Regions from separate parts of the Homo sapiens genome. Here region 1 is linked to region 2. The links come from fine-mapping of genetic effects on gene expression. A gene starts in region 2. The other region holds a variant in brackets. All regions are shown on one strand. Distances are between the middles of the regions. Region 1 overlaps SLC38A8 (solute carrier family 38 member 8). Region 2 holds the start of OSGIN1 (oxidative stress induced growth inhibitor 1).

Region 1 (3,008 bases), 76 kb after region 2:
AAGCAGAGCTCACTGATGGTCAAGGGAAGAGACGAGCTCAATGGCTACAAAGCTGAGATCCGGTGGTAAACCCTGGACACATCTCCCTGTGGACTTGATTTTACTTTGGAATGGTTTTGTTGGTGCTGGTGGTAGGCAGTGGATAGGTGGTTGTTTTTAGGACATCGAGGCAAATCTTCCCGAAAATAAGCAGCGTGGCCAGGCACGGTGGCTCACGCCTATAATCCTAGCACTGTGGGAGGCCGAGGAGGGCAGATCGCTTGACGTCAGGAGTTCAAGACCAGCCTGGCCAACATAGTGAAACTCCCTCTGTACTAAAAATACCAAAAAAAATTAGCCAGGCATGGTGGTGCACGCCTGTAGTCCCAGCTACTCAGGAGGCTTGAACCCAGGAGGTGCAGTGCAGTGAGCTGAGATCCACTACACTCCAGCCTGGGCAATAAGAATGAGACTCCAACTCAAAAAAAGAAAAAAAAAAAAAGAAAGAAATGGAAGAGCAGTGTCTGCTTCCACCTGCTAGGAGGGCTGCGGGAACCCATGACAGCCCAGAAGCAGAGGACTGAGCCCAGGCCCGCCACCTCCCCTGCCCCCCCTGCCCCGCCACCTTCCCCCCAGCGCTGTGCCACAGAGCCCTCTGCAGGTCTCTCTCCAGCTGTGCCTGGGGCCCGCTCACATCGGTGACCCACCTATGCTATCCCACCTGTGCTGTCCTCTCTACCTGGGGTGCGCTTCCAGTCACCTGGCTGCTGCCCATACATCCTTCAAGATCCCTTTCAAACCCCACCACCTTGAGCGGACACCTCTGACTCTGCCCCTCTGCCAGGATTCTACACATATAGCCCCGTCCTCCCTCCCATGACATTCTATTAAAAATTCTGTATTTCTGCCCCTTTCCCCTCTCCAATCAGCTCCCTGTACACCTTCCAGCTCCTCTACCCTGTACCCCTCAGGAGGCAGGATCTTTCCTGCCCAAGGCCCTGGGCAGAGTCCACCTGGGTAAAACTGTCCTGCCAGAGTTAGGTGGGCAGCTTAGGCCTCCAGGCCTCAGGTCTGACTGCAGTCCTGTGGGGGTTCTGCAGAGGAAGGGACAGGTCCCGGGTCCCCACACTCTACGCGAAACCTAAAAAACATGGTGCTGCTTTTGGCCATCAGTGGGGGCTGGATTCCCAAGTTCAAGGCAATTCCCACTTCCCTGAGCCCAGACACCAACCCATCCTCATGGTCTGGAATGACAGCCTGGGAACCACAGGTGGGCGGCACAGAGCCCACTGTATCCTAGGAGAAGTCCTCAGACGCCTCCCTGACAGAGAAACCAAGGTTTCCCAAGGGAGCAGAGAGTCACCCACAGCCTCTGCAAACGCCACAGGCTGCAACACAGATGCTAAAATTACCTGAAACCCGAAGCAGATGGTGGGGAAGACACTGAACACAGAGGTCCAGGAGGCAGGGCTGTAAACAGACAAGAACAGGAGTTTATTAAAGAAGGGTCACACCCGGAACAACCTGCGGCTGCAATGGTGAATTTTAAAGGATGCTGGGAAAATGTAACAGAGCATGGCTGCAAGATGTATTTTTAATGACTGTGTCCGTGACCGGGCTTTTGGAAATGGAAAAGGATGCTGGCTAAATGCTGCACTTTCTAAATACGTCTTTGCTGACATTTGGTAACATGACATTTTACATGTGGGCAGAATTTGGGCAGGAAAACCGCA[G/A]TAGGAACTCCCAACTTCCCTCTTGAAGGCTGCTGGCTCCCAGTGCGGTTTGGTAATTGGCAGGGGCGGGGGCACCCAGAGCATCCACCCAGTGATCCCAAATAGCACAAGGATGGTTTGAGCTCTGTCCAAGCCACCTAAGAGGACAGAGGTCTGCGTGGGGAGAACCTCCAGGTCCAGCCTCTTGGGATCCCCGCCTGGTTCACAGCTTCCTTTGACAGGCTTTGCAGGTGTAATTACTGAAAGTAAGATGAAGTCATGGTGGATTAGGGTGAGCCTGAATCCAATGCCTGCTGCCCTTATTGGAAGGGAAAACAGACAGAGAGAACATGGTGTGAGGATGAAGGCCAAGACCCAGTGATCCGTCTATCAGCCAAGGAACACAGATCGCCGCGGCCCCCAGAAGCAGGAAGAGACAGGAAAGATCTGCCCCTGGAGTCTTCGGAGGGAGCATGGCCTGACCACACTTTGATCACTTGTCACAACAGCCCTCGGACACTCACATATCCTAACTCATCACCTCCTGTTTTTACCAGGGCCTCCTCATCCCCTCGACCTGCCTGTGCTAGAGTACCACCGGCTCAGTGTACAGATCTCAGCACTCACAGCCTTCAATGCCATGTCTGGGCCAACGTCAGCCACGTTTCTCCTGCCAGCCCGGACCTCTCTCTCTGAACTTCAGACACACAGACCTGCCCAGCTGCTTGACTTCCCTCTTAGATGTCTCCAGGTCGGCTCTACCTTGACTGTTCCAGCCTGAGCTGCTCCCAGGGACCCGCCCTGCTCAGTCCTCTCTAATCCAGGAAACAGCATCTCCATCCTTCCCACTGTTCAAGCTGAGAGCTCCAAGTTACCTTGACTTTCTTCTCTCTCTTACTCACCTTCCAACCCACCAGCAGCACTGACCACAGAATTCACAGGGCCAGGTGCAGGAGGAATATGCGGGGACCCTTGTTGGACAAGGATTAAGGATTTTAAGACAGTGACATCAGAAGGGTACACTGAGCATGGGGCCTGGGTGACTGTAGGGGTCGCACACCCACGAGCCAGCCCTGCCACTGGGAAATCCGATCTCAAGCATATCCAGTCTGACTATTCCTCATTGCCTCCTCTGAAGCCACCAGGTCTGGGACCCGGGATCTAGGCAGAGGCCTCCCACTTGGTCTCTGTTGCTGCCCCTGGCTCCCAAGGACCACAGAACAGAATAAAAAGGGTGAGCCTTTTTATTAATTTTTTTCTTTTTTGAGACAGAGTCTTGCTCTGTTGCCCAGGCTGGAGTGCAGTGGTATCATCTCG
Region 2 (2,500 bases):
TACTTCCCTCCCTCCCTGCCTTCCTCCCTCCTTCCCCCCCTGCTTCCCTCCCTCCCTGCCTCCCTTCTGTTTAACCGATGTTGAGTGCCTATGTGTCCTAAGCGCTGTTCTAGACACTGTGTAGAGCAGTCACGAATATACTTCCCTGCCCACACAGAGCTCACATTCTGGTTTGGGAAGAGAGACAATAAAATAATTCAGAAATAGGCCAGGTGTGGCATCTCACGCCTGTAATCCCAGCACTTTGGAAGGCTGAGGCGGGCGGATCATCTGAGGTCGGGAGTTCGAGACCAGCCTTGCCAACATGGTGAAACCCTATCTCTACCAAAAATACAAAATTAGCCGGGCGTGGTGGCACATGCCTGTAATCTCAGCTACTCAGGAGGCTGAGGCAGGGGAATCACTTGAGCCCGGGAGGCGTAGGTTGCAGTGAACCGAGATCGCGCCATTGCACCCCAGCCTGGGAAACAAGAGCGAAACTCCTTCTCAAAATAATAATAATTAAGAAACAGCAAGGTGTGGGGTGTGCAGTGCTACCCACATAAAACAGGAGAGAAGAGCCTGGGAGCAGGCTTCAAGTTCTAAGCATGGCAGACAAGAAGGATGTCATGTAAACCCTCACGGCCACTCTGGTAGAGACAATCTGTGACTTGGCCCCAGTTTTCAGATGAGGAAACTGAGGTGCGGGCCCTAAGGCAGCTTGCCAGAGCCCTGCAGCTGGGAAATGGCAAAGCTGGATTCGCAGCCCAGGCAGGCTGGTGCCAGAGGGCTTTTGGGGATTGGAGGGTGCAGTGAAATCCAGGTGGAATGCGGGAACTGGACGGGGTTTCGCCACTTAAAGGTACTGTTATTTTAACTGTGTGCGGGACAAAGCCATCTCCTCTTCGCTTATGGCAAAGGCCAGGCTGGCTCATTCAGAGGTCACTGGTTCCTCCTCCAGAGACTGAGCCCCAGGGATGGGGGTCTGGCTAGGGGGAGGTGGCTGGGAGGGAGCGCCACCCTAGGCCCCCTGGCAGGCCGCCCAGCAGGGGCCCTTTAAGGCTGGCCATGAGGCAGGCAGCGTGACACCCGCCCAGTGTGCAAGTTCATTCATCACGGGCCCCTGCTGACTCACGCTTATGAAAGTGATTTTCCTGGCCCCGCCCACTGCCTGCGCCGCCTCCTCCCTCCCCGTGAAATACCCTCACTTCCCTCTGGCCTCTCAGAGCCTCTTGGATCCCCACAGGGTAATGGGTGTCCCGATCTCGCGGGGGACTCTGTGATCCGTGTTCCCCTGACCCTCCTAGTGCACAACTTGGCCGGGCTCACTGGGCTCCTGCACCACTGCCTGTCAGGTGAGTGTCCGGGGCCAGGTTCCGGGGCAGGGAATCAGGCACATCCCAGGCACCCGTGGCAAGCCCAGCTGGACCGGAGGGTCTGCAGAGCCCTGGCGCCAGGCGGGGGTCCCGGGTGGTCCTGAGTGGAGGCCCTCGCCTGGGTTCTCTGGAGCCCGGCAGGATTCTCCCCTACACCAGGTTCCTCCCAGATCCTCAGCTGTGTCCCTGTCCAGGTGCCTGGTACCCTCAGCCAAGCAGCTGAAGCGGCCACAGTCCCAGCGTACCCTGGGCCATGTGACCGCCGCTCCTAGCAGGAAAGAGGGGTGTGGCCAGCCCGGGCTTACTGCCCAGCTGTTCCAAGGCCACTGGGTCGGCAGCCAGGCTGGGTGCCTTCTGGGTTTCTGCTTCTCCTGCTCAGGAGGGACAGAGCCCTTGGGTGCCCATGAACAGCCCCCATCCCTGGAGGTCCCAGCGACTTAGCTTCTCTCAGGAGGCTCAAGAGTGCGGCGGGTTGGGAGGGCGGCCCCTGGGAGGCTGGGGAGCTGCAGGAGACCCTGGGCTCCAGGTGTGCGGCACTGGGGCGAGGGCTCGTCTGTGATAAATGGCAAGTGCCGCTTGCGTGGACAGACCACCCCCTCACACTTTAGCGCCCCCAGGGCTTCGTGTCACTTTCTTGGTCTCCCTGTAATCAGCTGTTTTACTGGAGGGGACTTGGCAGAACTAAGATTTGTCACATGGCCGTGGTCTTGGACCCTCCTAGGTGACCTGGGGCAAGACGCCCACTCCTCCTGACCAGCTTTTCTTCCTCTGCACAATGGGGATAAGAACACCCACCTCCTGGGGTGTCTTCAAAGGCAAAGGAGTAAATGGCCACTAGAGGTGCCAAAGAAACGCAGACATACAGGTGTCCCAGAGTCTCAGAGCAGTTTGCAGCTTTAACAACCTCAGAAGTACAAATGCCGCACACTTGAAAGAAACGTCAGTCGAAGGTGCAACTGTTTTCATTTCTTTTATCCTGTTTGCCTTTGTGAAATTTGAAACATCAATTTTTAATGTTAACTTCTTTCCATCAACATCTGCCATCTTCAATTAAAGGGACTTAAAAAGATAACATTAAAAATTGATTCTTCCAACTCCGTAAAACTAAAAAGCACAAAAGGAATTGAAATGAAACTTTTGAACTC

Evidence for each region.
Region 1: its variant is fine-mapped to the expression of OSGIN1 in whole blood (TOPMed, PIP above 0.99).

What each region holds. Positions count from the first base shown.
Region 1 is chr16:84,028,103-84,031,110 of GRCh38, forward strand. SLC38A8 (solute carrier family 38 member 8) reads right to left here. Exons shown (of 11, transcript NM_001080442.3): 6 at 1,392-1,449. Among named protein-coding and RNA genes, the nearest start is that of SLC38A8, 13 kb to the right of the region's middle. The variant G/A (reference allele first, on the strand shown) is at 1,713.
Region 2 is chr16:83,952,037-83,954,536 of GRCh38, forward strand. OSGIN1 (oxidative stress induced growth inhibitor 1) reads left to right here and starts at 1,204. Exons shown (of 6, transcript NM_182981.3): 1 at 1,204-1,334. RefSeq lists a silencer at 1,479-1,528 and an enhancer at 2,017-2,500.